Regions from separate parts of the Homo sapiens genome. Here regions 1, 2, 3 and 4 are each linked to region 5. Evidence: fine-mapped expression QTL. A gene starts in region 5. Each other region holds a variant in brackets. All regions are shown on one strand. Distances are from middle to middle. Region 1 overlaps VWA5A (von Willebrand factor A domain containing 5A). Region 2 has its middle 31 kb from the start of OR10G7. Region 3 has its middle 15 kb from the start of OR8D2. Region 4 overlaps VWA5A (von Willebrand factor A domain containing 5A). Region 5 holds the start of VWA5A (von Willebrand factor A domain containing 5A).

What was found. PIP is the estimated chance that this variant, and not a neighbour inherited with it, causes the effect.
Region 1: its variant is the best candidate, but not a certain one, in a credible set for the expression of VWA5A in blood mononuclear cells (TOPMed, PIP 0.89).
Region 2: its variant is the best candidate, but not a certain one, in a credible set for the expression of VWA5A in whole blood (INTERVAL, PIP 0.77).
Region 3: its variant is the best candidate, but not a certain one, in a credible set for the expression of VWA5A in whole blood (INTERVAL, PIP 0.58).
Region 4: its variant is the best candidate, but not a certain one, in a credible set for the expression of VWA5A in iPS cells (HipSci, PIP 0.60).

Annotation. Positions count from the first base shown.
Region 1 is chr11:124,147,681-124,152,309 of GRCh38, reverse strand. VWA5A (von Willebrand factor A domain containing 5A) reads right to left here. Exons shown (of 19, transcript NM_001130142.2): 19 at 4,589-4,629. Among named protein-coding and RNA genes, the nearest start is that of OR10D3, 33 kb to the left of the region's middle. The variant T/C (reference allele first, on the strand shown) is at 2,154.
Region 2 is chr11:124,070,085-124,074,713 of GRCh38, reverse strand. No RefSeq gene overlaps it. Among named protein-coding and RNA genes, the nearest start is that of OR10G7, 31 kb to the right of the region's middle. The variant C/T (reference allele first, on the strand shown) is at 2,162.
Region 3 is chr11:124,333,160-124,337,788 of GRCh38, reverse strand. No RefSeq gene overlaps it. Among named protein-coding and RNA genes, the nearest start is that of OR8D2, 15 kb to the right of the region's middle. RefSeq lists a silencer at 3,780-3,978. The variant T/G (reference allele first, on the strand shown) is at 2,199.
Region 4 is chr11:124,133,799-124,138,427 of GRCh38, reverse strand. It overlaps VWA5A (von Willebrand factor A domain containing 5A), which reads right to left. Exons shown (of 19, transcript NM_001130142.2): 12 at 3,394-3,508; 13 at 2,135-2,299; 14 at 1,754-1,854; 15 at 1,160-1,413. Among named protein-coding and RNA genes, the nearest start is that of VWA5A, 21 kb to the right of the region's middle. The variant G/A (reference allele first, on the strand shown) is at 2,805.
Region 5 is chr11:124,112,728-124,117,356 of GRCh38, reverse strand. It overlaps VWA5A (von Willebrand factor A domain containing 5A), which reads right to left and starts at 1,907. Exons shown (of 19, transcript NM_001130142.2): 1 at 1,875-1,907; 2 at 677-791.

The sequences.
Region 1 (4,629 bases), 35 kb before region 5:
TATGTATCTTGGACCAGGGTGGTAGTGTCATTCATATATTTATTTACACCTGAACATTATTATAAGATGATTATTGTATAAATATTTGGTACAAAATGGAAAATATATAGCTGTGTATTAATTGTATCTGTAACATTCATTTTAATGGTTTTATCTATTAGTGATTACAGATTCTCCCAAAATCAGATAATTCAGCTAATTTATTAATAAAGTATTATAATCTTTGTTCTTAATATTCAAAACAAGTAGCTATTTCACATTTTTTATTTTTAAAAGCAAAAAATAATAATACTTTCAATCATAGAGTCTCTGTATGCAGTTGAAGTTGTTACTAACTTAAAATAGATGGTTATAAATACAAGCTATTTTTATGAAAGCCTTAAGATAACCACAAAGAAAAGTCTCAAAACATAAAGAGAAAATAATCAAAGCAAATTGCTACCAAAAAAAAATCAAATACAGGAAGAAAGCAAGAGAAGAACAAGCCAACTACAAAACAAACAGAAATCAATTAAAATGGCAGTGATAAGTCCTCACTTATCAATAGTTATTTTAAATGTAAATGAAATAAATTCTCCAATCAAAAGACAGAGTGATCATTTTTATTTGTCTATTGTACCTCAGTAAAGCAGAAAACATGCTTGTAAGCTTAAGCGTCTTTACCCTAAAAATCCACTGAATGTTAAACTGTTAATTACAGTACCTCAAAAAAGAATTAAAGTGAGTGAATGGATTTCACAGTACATAAACTACACTTCACTAAGCTGTTTTTTTTTTAAAGTGAAATAAAGACTAAAAAAGGCATGGATTCTAAAGTCTATATAGAGCTTGATCGCTGACAAAGTATATATATATACTTTTAAATATATATATATTTAAAAGTAAGCCTGACTATATTTCTATACAATTCCACTTTCAGCTTTATGACTATGCTTATTATTATTTAAGAAGAATTGCCTAACATTATACCCTCATCCCTACCTGAGACTCTGTCTATTTATTGACCCTCACTGCATTACTGAATTCTTCCCCACACCTCACCTCATTTTCATATCTCACCATTAAGGATGTCTGTTTGTTACATCACTTAGTAATAAAAACTGGTTTATGTGCAAAACAAACAAACCCAAACTTTTAACTTTGGATAGACCACAATAGAAAAAAGAATGTTTTCTACCTCTGAAATTCCAAAAAGTACAGTTCTGTAAATGAAGGGTCAGTGAAGTGTGGAGATTTGGTAGATCAGACTACATGGAGGCCAGTTTCAACTATAACATGCAAAGAGTTTGGAAACCATCACTCTCACCATTACCACAAGAAAAAGCTGAACAAACATGATATGGTTTGGATTTGTGTCCCCACCCAAATCTCAGGTCGAATTGTAATCCCAGTGTGGGAGGTAGGCCTGGTGGGAGGTGATTGGATGATGGGGGTGGATTTCCCCATTTGGTGCTGTTCTTGCGACAGAGTTCTCACGAGTCCTGGTTGTTTAAAAGTGGGTAGCACCTCCTTCCTCTTTCTCGTCTTCCTGCTTTGGCCACATGAAGACACCAGCTGCTTTGCCTTCCATCATGATTCTAAGTTTCCCGAGGCCTCCCCAAAAGCTGCTATGCTTCTGGTATAGCCTGCCAAACTGTGAACCAATTAAACCTTTTATTTATAAATTACCCAGTCTCAGGTTTTCTTTTTATAGCAATGCAAGAATGGAATAATACAAAACTCATTTATCTGTACCCTTTAGAAACTGAGAACACAGGTAAATAGTCATTCTGAAATCCTGAGAGACAGGTGACTTCAGAGTCACTGCTGACATTTACAAACCTGGAAGAGAATCTTTGGGATGGAATATAGACAAATAGAAACTTCCTAAACTTAAATGTAAAGATAAAAACAAAAACCAAATAAAAAACAAACACACATTCACATGGCTATATAAAGAATCTCTGGAATGGAAGATAGACCAATAGAAACTTCCTAAACTTAAATGTAAAGATATAAACAAAAACAAAATAAAAAACAAACACATAGGAAAAACAGAGCAGAACATTCAAAACTTACAGGATAATTTCAAACAGTGTAACATGCAATTGAAATACAAGAAAAAACTAAGCAGAAAAATAGTTGAAGTTATAGCAAAAATTTTCCAAAATTAA[T/C]GAAAAGCACAAAATTACAGATTCAGAATGTTCAAATAACACCAAAAGGATAAATACAAAAGGCCCTACATTTACAAATATAATATTCAAACTGCAGAAAACCAAAGACAAAGAGAAAATCCCAAAAGTCTGCGGGGCAGGAGGGGGAGAACACTTTACCTATAGAGGAAAAAGAATAACAGCATATTTCTTGCCAAAAACTATTCATGCTAAAAGAGATTGAAGTAAAATATTTAAAGTGTTAAAAGACAAGACGACTGGACGCAGTGGCTCATGCCTGTAATCCTAGCACTTTGGGAGGCCAAGGTAGGTGGATCACAAGGTCAGGAGATCGAGATCATTCTGGCTAACACAGTGAAACCCCGTCTCTACTAAAAATAAAAAAAATTAGCCAGGTGTGGTGGCATGTGCCTGTAGTCCCAGCTACTCGGGAGGCTGAGGCAGGAGAATCACTTGAACCCAGGAGGTGGAAGTTGCAGTGAGCCGAGATCACGCCATTGCACTCCAGCCTGGGTGACAGAGCGAGAATCTGTCTCAAAAAAAAATAGACACACACACACACACATACACACACACACACGGAGCTATAAGTTCAGCACAATTATGCTTCAAAAGTGAAGAAGAAATAAGGACTTTCCCAGACAAAAAGAAAAACTAAGGGAATCCATTGCCCACAGATCTGTTCTACAAGAAGTTTTAAGACAAATTCTTCCGGAAGAAGAAAAAGGATACAGGTAAGAAACTCAGATCTATGCAAAGAAAGGAAATGTCAGGAAGAAATAAATAAAAGTGAAATATGTATTTTCATTTTCTTATTAATCGATCTGAAAGATAACTGTTTAAAGTTATGATAGTAACAATTAGGTAGTTAAAATATAGACATAAGTGACATGAATGGCAGCAATGTCATAGTGGATGGGAAGGAATTAGGAATACTCTGTTATAAGGTAACTGCACTACATGTAAAGTGATATAGTGTAACTTGAAGGTGGGCTTAAATTAGTGATAAATGCATATTGCAAACCCCAGAGCTAAAACTAAAAAAATTCTTAAGAAATATGATGGATATATTGAGTGGAGATAAAATGAAATCACACAAAATGCCTGGTTAAAGTGAGAAAAGGCAAAAATGAAAAAATAAAAGAAAAAAATGCAATAAATAGTAAACAGTTGACAAACATGGTAGATATTAACCTAATTTTATCAATAATTACTCTAAATATAGATGATATGGGTCGATAATTTAAAAGTAGTGATTGCCAGAGTGGATTAAAAGCAAACAAAAACAAATAAATAAGACCCAACCACATGTTGTTTCCAAAAATCCACTTTAAATAAAAAGACTCATATAGGCTAAAAGTGAAGGGATGGAGAAAGATACACCCTGCCAAAACCAATCAGCAGAAAGCTGCAGTAGTTACGTAAATTTCAGACAAAGCCAACTTCAGAACAACAACAACAAAAATCAGGAATAAAGTTGAGCATTAAATAATGATAAAAGAGTCAATTTTCCAAGGATGTATGATAATTTTAAATGTATATGCACTTAGGAGAATATCAAAATATATGAGGTAAAAACTGATAAAATACACAGTTCACTGCATGGGTTTTTTTTTTTGGTTTTCTCCTGGTCAATCAGATACTCCAGAAAGCAGATGGACTGTTTTTAAGGAAGGAATTGCTGTGAGTTGGGAGAGGAAGAGCAGATGCTCAGTGACCCTGAGTGGGACTGTGTTAGAGTTGGGGAAGACGGAGGATGGATTTCATTAGTAAGTCTGTGTAGAACAGAGAACCCTCCAGGGGAGCTCCTGGCCTGTTTGAGTGGAAGAATCTTGAGGGAATGGTATCTGCCACTTTTCCTGTGGCCAAGTCTGCTGCTGTGGGGGAAACAAGCACTAGATAAAGGCAACTAATGGGAGATGAGAACAGCTTCTCTCCTGGGCTCCTTGCCTGGACCACCAGTTTCTGAAATTACAGATGGTTCTTTATACTTTCCCAAAACATAAAGCATCAGACTTGAAATGGGGTTTCAACAAATGTGCCAAAATGCCATTTGCTGATTATGAAGACTGACACTTGTTTAGATTCGAGGAATTTACAGTTGGCACAACATTTCACTGTGCAGGAGCCCAAATGGAAAAATAAAACCACGCCACTTTAAAACTGTAGTTGTCTTATTTTAAAGAGGTCAAAAGACAGGTTGATAATTTTTTTTTTGTTTCTTTTAGTTCGTTTAGTTTTTGTTTTAGAACGCCCCGCACTAAGTCCACAAGCCCCAGTCTGGAAGTTGAAGGGTGAGAAAAAAGGAGGTAAACGATAAGCGCTCCGCATAATAAATGTAAAGTCACAGCATTGTGTGCACAGAGGTTAACTATACAAGTTTCACGGTCCTTAAGAAACTATTTTCTGAAATTACATAGGTAGGGCCTATCTAGATGGCAGGCTTGGATATAAGCCTATTTCATGAAAATATTAA
Region 2 (4,629 bases), 43 kb after region 5:
CTCACACTTGCTCACATACCCTTCACCGCTCCCACCTTACTCGCCCTTGGGAGACATGGGATCAAGGCCAGTAGCGTCAGCCAAGCACAGCCTGCAAGGCCAAGTAGGCAGAATGAGCCCAGTGGGCCCCACCAAATCTCAAGCAAAGGCGCCACTGGTCACAGATGTTTCCGGTCAGAAAAGTGACACCCCAAAGATCCCCTAACAGTAGACCTTCCCCACAATTGTTTTGCTTTGTTTCTTATATATAAACAAGCATTGTACCTAAGGTGGACGTAATTCTTCCTTTTGCTTTTGGGAATGTCCTGCTCTGCCTATGGAGTGGCCATTCTTTCATTCCTTTACTTTCCTAATAAACTTGCTTTTGCTTTACTCTGTGTATTTGTCCTGAATTGTTTTTTGCACAAGATTCAAGAACCCTCTCTTGGGGTCTGGATTGTGACCCTTTTCTGATAAAACAATTTAATGTTTTATATTGAAATGTGCTAATGTTGAATTTGTAAAGATACTATCAATAAAGAAAAATACAAACAATAATTGTTTTTAATCTACTGAAATCTATCGAGCAATAACCACTCAACAATTTGGTGATCATCTTTCCACCAAAGACACACGCATATGCTACACACACAAATTTACACAAGTAAATAACATTATAGCTATGATACTATACTCTAATTTTCCTATTCCCTAAAGCTTTTTCTCACATCAGTAACAGATAGCTGCCTCAACTTGAATGACTATAAAAATTCATTTTATGAATAAGTCAAATTATTCTTAACCCATTAATAGAAATATTTTTCTTTAAGAGTTTACATTAATGAACAATCACTTTAAACTATCATCTCAACTAAGACACTTATTTCATATGTATGGTTCATTCATATGTGTATAATCTTGGTTATTTCCCTGCTTTATAAACGCAAAGGAACATAGTTATATTCTTATGTCTTTTCCCAGATTATTTTTACATCACTGTGAAAGGAAAACCTTTTTATATTACTTGTTAAAAATTTTTCTGATGGTCATAAGTTTGGGATTAAGCTTTCAATTTTGGGGCTTTCCTGCCCTCCATCAGGCTCATTAGATCAGATGTATTTCACTGCCATCATTTTCTTTTTTTCTTTTCTTTTTCTTTGGAGATGGAGACTCACTCTGTCACCAGGCTGGAGTCCAGTGGTGCGATCTCGGCTCACTGCAACCTCTGGTTCCCGGTTCAAGCTCCCGGTTCTCCTGTTCAGTCTCCTGAGTAGCTGCGGCTAGTGTTCTAATCTTTGCAAAGGTAGTTCCAAGAAGAGGAAAATAGTTCTGTCTAAAAGAATTCTTTGGAGTATTTATAGTTTCAGAAAAATAGAAATTTATGTGTAAAAACTGAAACTAAGGTAACATATTATTAACTAAAACAACCAGATAGCAAAACATATTTTAGAGATGAAGCATTACATTTTAGAGGACGTAGAACAATTTTTCCAATCAAGGTGAGTGTCCTAAAAGTTTGCATTATTAAGGAAAGTTCAAGGGGACGATTTTATAAAAATTATAAAGAAAAGAAGTGCAACACCGTACATTTTCTCAAGGCCCATAGTTTTGTGAATGTTTTCCTACATCATTTTATCAAAAAGGTTCTGACAATTCCAAATGCTATTTACTGCTATGGTGTTACGGGAAGGGGAAATCTTTTCTCTTTCATTTTTCTGAGATTCCTAATTGGTAGCAATTGTTAATAAAAAAGGCAAAAAATCTTAAGACTAAGATCTGGAGATAAGCAAGTTTTCACAGAAAGAAACTTAAAACTTTGAAAATAGTGAAAAGCGCAGGAGGAATTTTAACAAATGCAAAATGAGGAATATAATAGGATGTTTTTACTTGCAACCAGGAATTAAAATGGAGGAGAAAGTAAGTTGTTTCTTACCTCTATCAGTTTCAAGTTTACTTAGCGTTTTTGATTTGGAGAAGAAAGGAAAAGATATACGTCAGAGATCTTTTAGGTAAAGCAAAATGAAACAAAAATATGTATGAGTTATGGGAAAATAGAAGAAAGAAAAAGGAGGCCGCAAGCAGTGGCTCACGCCTGTAATCCCAGCATTTTGGGAGGCCGAGGCGGGCAGATCATGAGGTCAGGAGATCAAGATCAGCCTGGCCAACACGGTGAAACCCTGTC[C/T]CTAGTAAAAATACAAAAAAATTTAGCCAAGCGTGGTGGCGCACGCCTGTGATCCTAGCTACTCGGGAGGCTGAGGTAGGAGAATTGCTTGAACCTGGGAGGTGGAGGTTGTAGTTAACAGAGATCGTTCCACTGCACTCTAGCCTGGGTGACAAGAGAGAGACTCCGTCTCAAAATAAATAAATAAATAAATAAATAAATAAATAAATAAATAAATAAAACAAGAAAGAAAGAAAAAGGAAAAGATGTGGAAAAGGTAGAAATAAGTCAGTGTATTCCTGCGGGACTACATAAGACAAAAGGACAAGCACTTCTCTCTTTCCTTCTCCATCACAAACAAACCTTTCCGTCAGATTTAGTGTAAGTTTTATCAAACTGTATGTCACAGAATAGTCAGAATATCCTGTAGCTGGGAAATTCCTTTTATTCTGTTTTCTTTTGTTGAAAGCAAAACTCGTATCACGTTATTAATGCACAATTTCCTGGGTTAAAATTAACTTTGGGGACTCCCTGCCAAAGGAATTCAAGCCCCGCTCTATGGAAGGAAAAAAAAAGAAGTCAAATTCCCTTCTCTGCTAGCTCAGAAGAGGAATGATGAAGGTACGTGCTGAAGCCGATCTGTCGGCCACGTGCTTTTAGCACCAAGTGGTTCTTGTGCAGTCTGTAAACACAGGCAGGGTCCTGTGACCTTTGCCAGCTGTATTTCCATCAAGACTTTCTCCATTCTTACCTGAAACACCTTGTGAACCCAATGGCTGTTTACACACAAAGAGTCGTGGGTCTACTGACACCAATTGGTAAAAATGGTAGCAATTGACTGGTTATTTAACTGGCTCTCTAGAAAGACTATAGCACATGGTGGTGCCATCAGAAATCATAAGCATCACAGACCTCTCTAACACAGTTCTAATAATAATTTCAACCATTCTTTATCCTATTGATTCAGCTCCAGGGTCTTTATTGCAAGCTACTTGTTAGTGAAGAGGAATCTGGTTGTCGGTGCCCCAATAGTGCCATCTGCCGGCCGATGTTAGGTATTTCACCTTAATTCGGAGTCCTGTTTCAAGAGCGGGATTTCAAAATCAAGAGTACTACTGGAAATGGAAATATCATTGCCCTACCAAAATCAGAAATTAGAAGACCTCTAGACACTTTTTTTCCCCAAAGTCATGAACATCTTCCTGTAAATGAAAATTCCTGTAATGGTACACAATTTGTAGATGTGAAAGAATCCTCTAAAATGATCTAGTTCAACCTCTTCATTTTACAAATATTAGAACTAAAGCCATAGAGACAAAATAATTTATTCAGGACCACACAGGCTATTATTAGTGGAACCACTGTTAGAACCCCGGTATTTTGCTGATTCACACATAAGTGCTTTTTAACATGCTATAAGCAGGAAAGATATTTATAGTCTTTCCCACTTCCTCATCTGAGGCCACTATGAAAGAACACTACTATTACTATTACTTTCCTACGCCTCCACCATGAGAACAGTCACACACACACACGCACACACACACACACACACACTCTCATAGTCACAAAAGGATATTCTACTTATAATCAGAAATCCTCTTGAAACAAGAATTAACATTCAAAATGTGAAAACCTACAAAAATAAAATTATTAAAAATAATTACAGCCTTTTTTTAAACTTTATTCTGACAAGAGCATTCTAAAACCTTCAGCAAATAGATATGTCAGCAAGTAAACAGTTTTAAAAATGGAACTAGGCCAGGTGTGGTGGCTCACACCTGTGATCCAAGCACGTTGGGAGGCCAAGGCAGGAGGATCACTCAAGCCCAGGAGTTTGAGACCAGCCTGGGCAACATGGTAAAACCTTGTCTCTACAGAAAATATAAAACTTAGCTGGGCATGGTGTCACATGCCTGTAGTTTCAGCTACTTGAAGGCTGAGGTGAGAGGATCGATTGAGCCCAGAAGGTTGAGGCTGCAGTGAACTAGGATTGTATCTCTGCATTCTAGCCCGAGAGACAGAGCAAGAACCTCAAAAAAGTAACTAAACTTTATTTTTGTATAATTAAACAAATTTGGTTAGGGCTCCATTTTATTCCATAACATGAAGTAGGGTGTGTGAATATGATAGCTGTGACACAAACTATGCTGGCGGTGTAAGATTTCTGCTCTACGGAAGGTAGCTAAATAGACATGAGGGACCAAGCAGAGTGGGTTCTCCACTGGGAGAAAATGTGAACTGGCTAACATGTAATGACCTTTTCACTATAATTTCATAATTCAATTTTTCTGCACAGTACTGATATGGGAGGGGGCAAGGAAGGGCTGGGAGGAGAACGGCGGGTCCCTGGGGAGGGCTCCACCCCTGGACCTGTGCCCATGGAACTAGGGGAGAACAGGCACTCCTGCTTTCAGGTCCAAATGTTGCATTTCCCAAGACCACCCTGGCCCACCATGTCCCCATCCTGTGCCTATAAAAACCCTGAG
Region 3 (4,629 bases), 220 kb before region 5:
TACACTGTTGGTGGGACTGTAAACTAGTTCAACCCTTGTGGAAGTCAGTGTGGCCATTCCTCAGGGATCTAGAACTAGAAATACCATTTGACCCAGCCATCCCATTACTGGGTATATACCCGAAGGACTATAAATCATGCTGCTATAAAGACACATGCACACGTATGTTTATTGCGGCACTATTCAGAATAGCAAAGACTTGGAACCAACCCAAATGTCCAATAACGATAGACTGGATTAAGAAAATGTGGCACATATACACCATGGAATACTATGCAGCCATAAAAAATGATGAGTTCATGTCCTTTGTAGGGACATGGATGAAACTGGAAACCATCATTCTCAGCAAACTATCGCAAGGACAAAAAATCAAACACCGCATGTTCTCACTCATAGGTGGGAATTGAACAATGAGAACACATGGACACAGGCAGGGGAACATCACACTCTGGGGACTGTTGTGGGGTCGGGGGAGGGGGTAGGGATAGCATTGGGAGATATACCTAATGCTAAATGACGAGTTAATGGGTGCAGCACACCAACATGGCACATGTCTACATATGTAACAAACCTGCACATTGTGCACATGTACCCTAAAACTTAAAGTGTAACAATAAAAAAAAAAAAAAAAAAGCCAGAGATGAAAAGTTTCTTAAGGACTAGTAAGTATAACCTACTTTGCAGCTTTAAACAGCATAGATTAAGCTTTTTTTTGGTCAAATAGTTTTCTTATTTATTTTTACACACAAACCAGCACATAAAAGAAGGACATTTATTTATTACATGGATGGGAAAGTGAAGCTCTTCATGGTAATGATTTACTTAGTCACACAACTTCTTAATGAAAAAGTCTAGACTAAACATTTTGCCTTCTGATTTCAAGTCCACTGCTCTTCTTAGTACATTTTGTTTCTGTTTTACTATTTTTATTTCAGTTAATATGGAATATAAGAAAACATTTCTAATTTGGAAATTGACTGTGCTTTGTTCCAGAATGATACATAAATGTCTAACAGAATGTGTATCGCTTCTTTTATGCTTGTTTAGGAAAACAGTTTGACGGTTCTTATTGTTGGGAAAGAGGACATCTTTTAAGCTAGTATGAAGTTAATGGGTGCAGCACACCAACATGGCACATGTATACATATGTAACAAACCTGCATATTGGGCACATATACCCTAAAACTTAAAGTATAATAAAAAAAAGAAATCTTAAATTGAGTCCATAAAGTAAAATATGGCACACTTTTAATAATCAATATAAGAATTATCCAATGTATGGCATATCTCAAATTGGATGAATTCTTTATCTGCAAATATGTTTCTTGGTATTTGTGGCTTCTTCATCTATGAAACTAAATTAATTACTGATTAATTAATTTTTTTTACTGTTAGCCTCAAAATACATTTTTTTTTATTATACTTTAAGTTTTAGGGTACATGTGCACATTGTGCAGGTTAGTTACATATGTATACATGTGCCATGCTGGTGCGCTGCACCCACTAACTCGTCATCTAGCATTAGGTATATCTCCCAATGCTATCCCTCCCCCCTCCCCCCACCCCACCACAGTCCCCAGAGTGTGATATTCCCCTTCCTGTGTCCATGTGATCTCATTGTTCAATTCCCACCTATGAGTGAGAATATGCGGTGTTTGGTTTTTTGTTCTTGCGATAGTTTACTGAGAATGATGGTTTCCAATTTCATCCATGTCCCTACAAAGGACATGAATGAACTCATCATTTTTTATGGCTGCATAGTATTCCATGGTGTATATGTGCCACATTTTCTTAATCCAGTCTATCATTGTTGGACATTTGGGTTGGTTCAAAATACATTTAAATGTTAAACGAATACTCTTTCTTAAAGAATATATGCTAAAGATAATTTAAAAAAGTCAAACAGGAGGTGAGTTTTTCGGAAAATAAAAAAATGACTTTGAAATGTTATCAGGATCATTTATTTGATAGATCTAAGCATGGGAGTGAAAGGACTCAAAGAGACACACGGCTGATAAATGAGATCCCTCTGTAGAGAATGGTCAGTAAGACTGTAGAAACCACTTTCATTTCCTGTTATTTTTAAATTTTTTAAATTATTTTTAATTTTGGCGAGTAATCTGAATTTGTATTCTATTCTGTGGAGCACCGTATCTTGTACTCTCCATTAAGCTTCGATAACAATTATAACATGCACA[T/G]GGTGTTATTATTTGGGGAATGTAAATGGAAAAGCTGTGGCCACATTTGTGAGGAATTAGGTAGAGAAGGAATAGCAACAACTTCTTGATAAAAAAAATAATGAGTGGTGTTTGAAATTCTACTTAGGAAGACACAATTTAGAAAGTAAAATGATGGAAAATGAAATCCCTTACTTAGAATTCTCCTCTCCTTGGAGGCTCTAGGAAATTGTGGAGATCATAGGATTTATCTTAGTGGTGTAAAAGATGACATTGCTTGATATTAATTCCAGAGGGCTGGGAGTCCTAGGAACAGCCAAATCACACTTGCTTTTCTTGGTTTTCATGTGTTCCTTGCATATGGATTTTAAGCTATGAAAACCTCAAACTGTAGCTGAGAGAGATATGATAATTTGAAAAAAAATTGATTTACCAAATTTAACAAATCGTATCAGTCTTTTCTGGAATAGGAGGGTAGATTATTTTTCCTTTGGGAAATCAGACAAAAATATGACTACTCAAAAATCATCAATCTTATATAGAAATGGACAACTATTTTCTAACATAACTATAACGATATTTACTATTTTTCCATTTTATAATCTCTACTCAATATTTTGGTATTAAAAAATTCATCCTAACTTCTTTGTTGGCTTATTGTTTTTGATGTTCAGCATTACTAAATTTTTGACTTATGGTTTGAAATGGCTGCTCATTCCTGATTGCTGATCCTGGTATCAACATGCCTGATTTAACCCTTAACAAATTCTATTCTTACAAAATAGCTGAAGTTGGTTGGAGGTTTATTTTTACCATTTCTTTTATTTGCTGTCCCTTTTGATAAAATTATTTTCCTTAGTTAAAAAATGTATTTAAATAAGTAAATAATATCTGTGCTAGTTGGTACTCGGTGGACATTTCAGAGGTGTGTCCATACTTTATGTATTTTATCACTGTTTGAAATGGCCAAAGAGGTGGATTAAACTGGGTCACTGATCTTTCATGTGAAGACCCTCAAAATGCAGATGAAATCAGTTTTATTTTCAGAAAAGATAAACTTAAAAATATGTTCTAATCTAAAACTGAGAAATCCCATAAGTCTGGCACAGTCGGTTTTTCTCTCTAGCGTCAGGACATGTCACTCACTGTTAATTAAGCTTTGCACCAGATCAAGCATGTAGTTTATCTGCAGGCTTTGTTGTGCAAAAGAAATACTTTCTTTATTTTTTTTTTTTTCTGAGACGGAGTCTTGCTCTGTCACCCAGACTGGAGTGCAGTAGTGATCTCGGCTCACTGCAACCTCTGCCGCCCAGGTTCAAGCGATTCTCCTGCCTCAGCCTCCCAAGTAGCTGGGATTACAGGCATGTGCCATCACGCCTGGCTAATTTTTGTATTTTTAGTAGAGACAGGGTTTCACCATGTTGTCCAGGCTGGTCTCAAACTCCTGACCTCATGATCCACCAGCCAAAGTGCTGGGGTTACAAGCATGAGCTCCCGCACCCTGCCAAGAAATACCTTTAAACATTAAGTTATCACTCATTGATAGAAGCGTTCCCTTTGAGGGCAGAGACTTAATCGTCCTCAGTGAGGAGGAGGCTGGTGGAATCACTTGCACTGTTTAAAGTCTTTCTGCCATAGAGTTGAATTAACCCACTACAAACATCAATATAGAGACGTGTCCAGGTGTTGTAGTTTGTCTTTGGAGGAGAGTTGTGCACAGTTTCCTCTACACTGTCCCATCTGTCAGTCCCTGTGCTCCTCAGGAAGAAGTGGGAGGTAAATGAGCAAGGGAATCCCAGATTCAGTCCCACGGATGGTAGGTGTGGTGCTCAGAGATGTTGGTGGCTTGTTGTAGATTACAACATACAGGTGGTAGAGCTGGGATCAGGACTCGGGTGTTGGATTCTAAATTGATCAGGATTTTATTTTCTTTTTAATTATACAAAATTTTTCTACTTTAAAAATCAGTTAATTATGAATATTATTTTTAGTAAATAAAAATGTCTTGAAATACAAATAAAAGCAAAATACTCAAGAAAAAATGTCTTACGAGTATTCTTCATATTTCATATTTCATAGTTCTGTTGTTCAATTTAGAATACGTGAGTATGTTCTTATTTTCTTCTGGCCAATACAATAAATAAAAAAACAAGAATGGCCTAGATAAATCCTGATTTTTATTGGTTCTTACTAAGTTCCAGGGTGAGCAGTACATTTTTACATTTAATGTCTTATTTAATCTCACATTGATGATAATTGGCAGACACTGATATAATGATAGTTATATCATAGCAGTAATCTCTGCCACACTGGTATATAATGATATAACTATCATTATATACCAGTGTGGCAGAGATTACTGCTGTTCAATCTTCCTCCAAAACATACATTTCCCAGTCTTTCTTGCAGTGTGCTCTTGCATGTGACTGAGTTCCAGACGTGATGCACACTG
Region 4 (4,629 bases), 21 kb before region 5:
AAAAGGGAATGCTTGCACACCATGGTGAGAATGTAAATTAGTATAGCCATTGTGGAAAACTGTGGCTCCTTAAAATGTTAAAAATGGAGGTACTATATGATCCAGCAATCCCACTGCTGGATATATACCCAAAAGAAAAGAAATCAGTAATATCAAAGAGATATCAGCACTATTCACAATAGCCAAGTCATGGAATCAACCTAGGTATCCATCAGTGGATGAATGAATGATGAAAATGTACTATATATACACAATGTAACATTATTCAGCCATAAAAAAGAACAAAATTCTGTTATTTGCAACAACATAGATGAACTTGGAGAACATTATGTCAAGTGAAATAAGCCAGCCACAGCCTGGATAAAATGGCAAAACCCCATCTCTACGAAAAATACAAAAAAATTAGCTGGGCATGGTGGCATGCACCTGTAGTCCCAGCCACTCAGGAGGCTGAGGTGGGAGGATTGCTTGAGCCTGAGAGGTTGAGGCTGCAGTAAGCCATGATTGTGCCACTGCACTCCAGCCTCGGCAACAGAGTGAGACCCTGTCTCAAAAACAAAGAAGGAAAATAAGTCCAGAACAAATATATAAAGACAGGATAGGCAAATGTATAGAGATAGAAAGTAGGTAAGTGATTACTGGGACTGGTGGAGAGGGGAGTGGAGGAGAAGATAGGTGGGGTCAGGGAGAGAAATGGGAAATGTCTGTTAATAGTTATGAAGTTTATTTCTTAGGTGATGAAAATGCTCTAAAATTGATTGTGGCAATCAATGGTTGCACAACTCTGTGAACATACTAAAACCCATTGGACTGTACACTTTAAATGGGTGAATTGTATGATATTTGAATTATATCTCAATAAAAAAGATAAATCAGCTTCAGATTAGGCAGTTTGGTTACTCAGGGTTTACCTGCACTTTCTACATTTTAATGTTTGTTTTTTGTTTTCTCTTGGATTATTTTAAATCTCCTTGCCAATGGGATGCATTCTAGTTCCCTGGGACAGAAAAATTTAACACTAACCAGAAATCCTAGATGTGGAGGTATAAGGAAAACAAAGCAATTTGAGAACATTTCACAGCCCTTTCCTTTAAATAATGTGCTCAGATAGTCAGAATCTTTTATTCTATATGAGTTTGAATGGAATAAAACTCATTACCTGATTGGCATTTTATCTTCAATGGGGCAGAAGCACCCAACAGAATTGGCCTTGGGACGTCCCTATGAGCCAGAGGCCCCTGAACCGGCTTGTTGAGCTCCTTATTGATAGCAATGAAAGCTGTGAAGGAGCTTATGACACCAGACTCAAGGCTAAGGTTCAATGCATCTTTTTTATCACTTGCTGGAGTCTCCCTGAGGCCCATGTCCTTGGTCTGGAGCAAGGACTTGGCAGCAAGGCGGTGAATGGTGAGGCTGAAAGGAAAAAAAAAAAAGTACTGAAATGTAGGGAAAGACATCCATATACCAGTTTCTCAGGGCTCCTAAAAGTTAGGAATAGAAGAGTTAAGATAAAGTCAGATAAGGGGAGAGAGAAGACTTGGGTGGTTTAGAAATAAAAAATGATTGTAGGAAAACAATTACAATGGAGCCCAGAATTAAGAGAAGAAATCTAATCCCCAAAGATGGCAGAGGAAAGAAGGAAGGAAGGAGGGAGGGAGGGAGGGAGGGAGGGAGGGAATGAAGGAAGGAAGGAAGGAAGGAAGGAAGGAAGGAAGGAAGGAAGGAAGGAAGGAAGGGAAAACTGAATTCTCACTTGACATCAGGCTTGGGTTGTAGAGGAAATGTCACCTTATCCTCAAAAGTCTTGCCCTGGAGTGTATATTTGAGGCATACTTCTCCTGTTGTCTCTGCTGCCTGCAAATTAGAGATGAGTAGAAATGACGGAACATGTAATGTTCTGATCATCCATGGAAGGATCAGAACAGGGGCAGGTACCCAAAACAATGTATGAAAATATCTGATGAAGAATCAGGTAGCCTAGGAAACCGGAGACCTGAAATGATGGGAAGGAAGTAGGCTAGCTATACTTGGCAAGTGCCGTCTCTGGCTGAGATTGAAATCCACCTACCAGCTTTAGTGGAATGGTCATGTGGTAGCTCTTTGACTAGAGGAACAAATAAGAATGGGAACTCACTGGCATCCTCCCGGTCAGCTGGGCATAGCTGATTAATCTCTGACCCCTAAAGATGACAGTCTGTTCTGGGGAAAGCATTTTAGCAGACAGACCAGGAGGCAAATGCCAGCTCAGAGAGACATCCTCTACCACAGGCTGCAGAGAGCGTTTCAGAGTCCTGAGAGCCTAATGTGGGGAAGAGAACAGAATAAACACAAATGATACAGACAATGGCAGCTACAATTAACTGGACATTTATTATGTATCAGATGTGATACATAATACATGTCATGCCTACTCCTCAATACTATTCTAGGAGATGGGCTTTATATATGAAGAAGCTTTGCATATGAATAAGCCAAAGCTGAAATATTTAGTAACGTAAATGTAAATAAAGAAAATGTTTGAGTAACGAGACCCTTGGAGAAGGGGATTAGATAAAGGTGGCACCTACTGGGAAAGAGGAGCTTAGAAATACCACCAGAGGCCGGGCGCGGTGGCTCACGCCTGTAATCCCAGCACTTTGGGAGGCCGAGGCGGGCGGATCACGAGGTCAGGAGATCGAGACCATCCCGGCTAAAACGGTGAAACCCCGTCTCTACTAAAAATACAAAAAATTAGCCGGGCGTAGTGGCGGGCGCCTGTAGTCCCAGCTACTCAGGAGGCTGAGGCAGGAGAATGGCGTGAACCC[G/A]GGAGGCGGAGCTTGCAGTGAGCCGAGATCCCGCCACTGCACTCCAGCCTGGGCGACAGAGCGAGACTCCGTCTCAGAAAAAAAAAAAAAAAAAAAAAAAAGAAATACCACCAGAGGGGTCTTCTCCTTTTGCAGAAAGATGAAATGGAATAGCAATTTACTACCTCTTCCGATCCATTAGACATATCATGATTATTCCTTCTCCTTTTCTTTGTATCTTTTGCATGGAGGATGCATGTAGTACAAAAGAGGTTCTAAAGCGCAGACCTAGAATCTCAGTCTTGACAGTCAAAGCTCTTAGTTTGTCTGTGTCTGGTCTTAAATGCAAAGGCCCAGATCCCTGTCAGCATCTTGTCTCTGAGCTTGCAGCTACTGGGACCAGATGTCATATTTCCAGATACTACAGTGGGCTTCTATTACATGAGGCCAAAAGTAGCCTGACTAAGTATACAGCCTAAGGCCTTGGGGATATAGGAACAGGTATCCTGGAGGAAAGTTGCTACCCCTGCCCTTACACAGTGTTCCCCACCCCGTTCCACTTTGGTCTGGATTGCCACCTCCAGACAGACACAGTCAGTCTGTCCCTCACCTTGGACTGCATCCTGTCTTTGCCTGTGATAAATTCTGAGGTGCCCCCTGATGCCCGGGCAATACCTTTTATTAGGCTGGTGGAGGTGCCTTCTCCAATACCAAATGAGAAACACCTGCAATTGTAACAGGACAGAGGTTAGAGGAAGGCATTAAACAGTGAAAATATAAAATTAATACATAATGGCCAAAAATACATAAGGAAATAGTCTACTTTCTTGACCAAAAGTGTAACAGCTACCATTTACTGAGCATATTCTATATTTTAGGAGGTATAAAAATGCCTTAAATCAATGATGCAATTTAATCATCACAAGACCCCTAAAAGGCAGGCTTCTGCTTCACTTTGCAGATAAGAAATGGAGGCCCAGGAAATTTAAGAAATCTTTCCAAGATCATGCAACTACTAAATGATAGCAATGTCACTGGAGCACTGATCTGTCTTACTGCAAGATCTCTCTGGCAAACTAACAGAAAGATAGAAACTAACACCAGTTCCTACCTAATGATGTGCTGGTACCATATCTCCCCTAGCAAGACTATTCTTAGAGAAAGGAAGTGTGCCTCCTGCACTTCTAAATGGAGAGTTCTTGCCCTGCCTTAGTCCATGTGCACCAAGTAACTTCTTAAACATAATGCGATTTCCCAAATAGAATTATATATAAACAAAGAATACATTGGTAGTACTAGCACAGGCGCTTTTGGAAGGCATGACAGACAGAGTTTTCATTGTAAATTAATACCCTGCAATTTTGGTTTATGTATCAGTCTTTCTTAGTGTGAGCCATCATCCCCAAGTCTAGTGGCATCAGCATTAGGATCAATGCTCTACGCTTGTAAGACTCAGGAACAGACTTCTAACTGGACCTACGTGTAACAATACTTCCTAAATACTATAGCCTGACAGCATCTTGATATCACAACCTTTAAATTTCTAACATGATCTTTGAATTGTAGCCTATGTTATAAAGTGCTGTTATATTTTTAAGGTCTTTTGTATAAAATCAAAACTAAACAATATTGGCTGGGTGTGGTGGCTCACACTTTGGGAAGCCAGTGCCAGGAGTTCAAGAGCAGCCTAGGCAACAAAGTGACAGACCCGGTCTCTAAACAATCAAACAACAACAACAAAAATATATTGATGACTAACTAGAACTCACGACAGTGCTGCATGTGGATGATAATAAAAATTAAAATATTACAATAATAGCAAAATTTTATATAGCACTTACTTTTT
Region 5 (4,629 bases):
AAGGAGACAAAGATTTCAGTCATAAGGGTCCTTTTAAATGGCAGTCCCAGGTGGGGAAGGTGTAAGATTCACTGGTATCTACTAAACAGGAAATCTCTGAAACACCCTGAGGCTGGTTCAAATACCAATTCCACTTTCTCAAAAGTGTATTTAATTCACCACTCCTTGGGCATATGGAGTAGGTGTCACTAATCCCTCTGAGCCTCAGTATTTTCTTTCCAAAATGAGTAGTATAATATCCACACATCGTATGTGAATTAATACATGTGAAGTCCCTACAATAGCACATGGGCCATAGGAGGCATTTAATCAATGATGACAGACATCACTATTGTCCCTATTATTGTTGTTACTGTTAATCAATAAACCTCTGCCACCATTCACTTTGGATCATGGCATTCAGAGACGCGCTGCATGTGAGAAGCTGTGTGATTCAAGATGGACTCCTGCCACAGGCCATTTACCTTGTGGCTTTTCTTTTGGGACCCAAAATTAAAAGATACGAGTATATTTGTTTGTATCCATCCAAGATATTCTAATATATTTAAATATTATATAGGCACATAGCCTACATTTGCACCCCCACTAAACAGCACCAATAAATCAGGCTTTTCATTCCATATCTGTTTTTATTTTGAGAAATTGGATAAAAACTGAGTGTGGCAAAATGACTCACAATTCGACAGCAACGCAGAGGACAGTGGCAGGTGTGAGGAGAGGAGAGGATGCTCAGAAAAGGGCTTCTACGCAGACCTCTGACCTGGGCAAGTTCTCTGGTAGAACAGGCTGGGCTGGGGGAGGGAAGAATTTCTAATAACACATTAAGCAGAGAGCCTAAAGCAGGAGACTCACACAGGAGTAAAACAGCTGAAAGAGAAGCTCTCAGGCTGGGCAATACTCACCAAGGTGGCTAGAGTAAAAGAGAGAGAGACGCAAAGGGCACCCCTACAAGGAAATAGCCTTCGCTTCCTGATTCTAAGCTCAGAACAAATCCTCCGTTGAGGAAAACTTGCTATTCTGCACCCTTGCCCCCACTCTTCCCAGTACAAACAAAATTAGTTTGGGTCAGAATTAGTTCTGTCTCTCAGGATGGCACTTCAGAAAGGCAACTTGCAAGGCTTAGGTAGAGACTGGCCACCAAGCTGAAAGCCATGAATCTGAGGCAGCTGGGAGAATACAAGGCTTCCGGCCTAGCCAGGTAGCTGCTTCAGGAATGCAGAGTCCCAGCACCAGCCGCTCAGCAGCTAGGAGGGTGGGAGGGGAGCTGGGTGGCACCACCGGCCACACACACCCCTGCGGCCTGTGGCAGGGGTGAAGTGGAGAACTCGGAACCAGACAAGGAGGAGATTTGGGGTAAGAAGTGGGGCTTGGATAAAATCAGAGATTGATTTAACCTTTCCATTCAGTCCTAGATTTCCAATGTCCACGTATTTACAGAAGAGACTGCGTCGGTCTCTTACATTTCTATAGAGAAGGGCTTAGGGGCTGCAACTGATTGGAGTAGATGAGGCTTACAGCCTCATTTCCTCAGCTTACACTATCCTGAAACTGAGAAAACATCAATTGTCTATATCAAAGAAAGAAAGCGGGAAAAAAAGTAAAGTAAAAGAGAAGGAAAGTAGGAAGAAGGGCCTTGAGATTAGGAGATGGCTAAATCCCTCCTTCAACCTCCAAAAGATTCCCCTAAACTGCCAAACTTGCAGGAACCTTCCTGGGGATCATACATCAGGATGAAATCCTCCACCCATGGGGCGTGCAATTCAAGGAGCCCCTACAAATTTGGGGACTGGGGAAAGGGAGCTAGAATGTGGAGCTCTCAGTCTTCCAGAGCAGGGGTTGGATCCAGGCCCTGCACCGGTAGCTTGGTCCCCTACCTTCCTCTCCTGCAGCCCGGAGCGCTCTGAGTCACAGCGGAGTGAAAACAGCTGCAGTCATAATTTCCGGAAAGAACCGCCCCCTTCTAGGGACCGGTTATAAAGTAGCGACTACAAGACTAAGGGATCAACGGAAAATTATTGAACAAATAATCGAACTTTCGCTTGTTTGTATCAAAGGAAAAGTCTTCGACTTTGGAACGTTTGGTTTTTTTCTTTGCTCTTTGCTAAGGAACAATCAGAGAACAGGCAAAGAGGGCAAGGGAAAATGCTGCAACAGGAACAACAACAATGACATTAAAAACTGCATATTTTTGTAAAAGCTTAATTGCCAAAGGCTTACTGTGTCCTGGGCCCTGTTAATCAAAGCTTTATGGAGATTATATCATTGACACCTTATCTCTAATGTGAGTCATTTTCCCCCAAGTTGCCCCTCCCCTACAGCAGGGGGAAAGATAAGGAGATAGTGCAAGGCACACACATCTGCTCTAATGAGAGAAGCTCTAGCCAGGGAAGCCCAAGTCTTCCTGTCATGGGTCGCTTATGGGATCCTGAAACCAAATGTTTGGGTTAACGATGTAAGTAACTGAGAATGTCTATGCTCATTTACCTGGCTAAAGGACATTAGAAGCGATCAAGGTCCCCATGGCTTCTCTATTTCAAAACAACCTATTAAATCTGAGACTTAAAGTGTCATATTGCTGTCGAGAATCTATAGGATAAAGAATACATGATACATATGGAAAACACAGCTTGATTTTGGTCTCTGTGATGTATTTTTTGTGGATATACTTGTTATATACTGGTTATATACTTGTTTTTGTGAGATATTTGTTATATACAAATAACTCTCCCCAAGTTATTTGTTCTCTCATCTGAAACGGGGATAATGACAAACCTCCACTGATTGTTTTTGTGAGATCTAATGAATCTTAGTGGCTATAAAAGTTTTATATATATATATATATATATATATATACACACACACACACACACACACACACATTTATATACTTTATATATATACACCCACATACACATTTATATACATGGATGTGCATGCATAGATGTATATATGTGTATATATGTACACCCATGCATGTATATACAGTTACATGCATGTAATATATGCATATATAGTAAAGCATAATATAAGCACAAATTCTATTTTATCAGTACTAGGCCCTACAACCATGTTTTTTACATGTACTGAACTAATTATGAGAGGAAATTATCCTTTTCTCTGGAGAGAAATCATGTCTGGTATTGTTCCTTGTGACTGTGCCTTCTTTCCATTGGCCGAAACATCTGAGCAACAAAAGGGAGGAGCTGGAAACGTGGGCAGAGTTCATCATCTGATCCTGCTGGGCTTAGAGCTTAGCACTAAAAGTCTGCCACAGACCAGGCATGCAGCGTGGTTAGAGGGCACTGAATCAGGAAACACACAGAAGTTGCTGGTTGTTGAAAAAACAACTATGTGAAAATTCCCATAACCTAGCACAATATACACAATTAAACCGATATAGATGAGATATCTTCACTTAAAAGTCTGTCTTAGTGTTGCCAGGCATTCCTCAAGGTTGATTCTCACCTTCTTTTTTATACTAACAGGAACCCCAAGTTTCACAATGTCTATGACCATTCAGAATAAAAACATTGCCTAGCCTCCCTTAAAGCTGGTGTGGCCTTGTAACTAAGCTCTGGCCCATAGGGTACAAGAAATAAGTGCAACACCATGTCATGCCCTTTCAAAGAAAAGAGGATGGCTTCCCATTCACTTTACCCTCTTCCTGCTCATTGGTGTGAATGCAGGTAACTGAACCAGCTTGAACCATAAAGACTAGATCATAAAGCCTGGAGCATTTCCCCTAAAAATGGAGAAGCAACAAGACAGAAAGATCCTGAGCCCCTGAGACTCTCATAGAGCAAGCCACTGTATCATCACAGAATTTTACAGGATAAAGTAACAAATTTCTCCATGGTTTATAACAGCTCTTTGGGTCCTTATCTTACCCTAATACATTTGATTATGATTAATTAAAAAGTAGACTTTTAAGGAAACTATCTTCTTCAGAATATGAAAAGCACATTTGCTTATAATGGAAATAGAAATCTGCATATTATGAGAACAATATCCAATTTATTTTAGCGCCCACCACTGTAACACATGTGCCCTGAATTATGCCGGTGTGTGTTGATTATGTTGATCATAGTTTGCTACTTATTTTTCTTCAGTTCTTCTGAGAGCCATTTCCCTTCCTGAAATAAAAAGGCTGTTTGTCATAGAGTGCTTAGCATTGGTTCAGAACAGGCTTTCAATAAGTCGTTTCGGTCATTGTCTCATTTCTGTTATTCTCTTTCTTCAATGTTCTCTATCATCATGGAGTTTTAAGTGTCCAGTTCTGCTTGTTCTCTCTCCTCTGATGTTTCCATAGCAATTCACCTAAAACTTCCTGCCGTTTTTATCATACTTGAGCCCTTTATGTGCTCTTAAAATTGTAAACCTTTAAGAAAGTAAGTTTTTAAAAGTCATGAAGTTATTTGTTTAATGAATAAATACATACAAATCCCAGTGGTTGTATATACGCTTAGGTCTTGTGATTGCAATCCACTATAGATACTGGAGAATAGATTTCAAAAGCTCAAATAACAAATGCTCAGACGTGCACAAATCTTATAAGCATTTATTACATATTGGTGATAACAATTATAATTAATAGGTATAATTTTCATATGATCACCGATAACTTGGAAA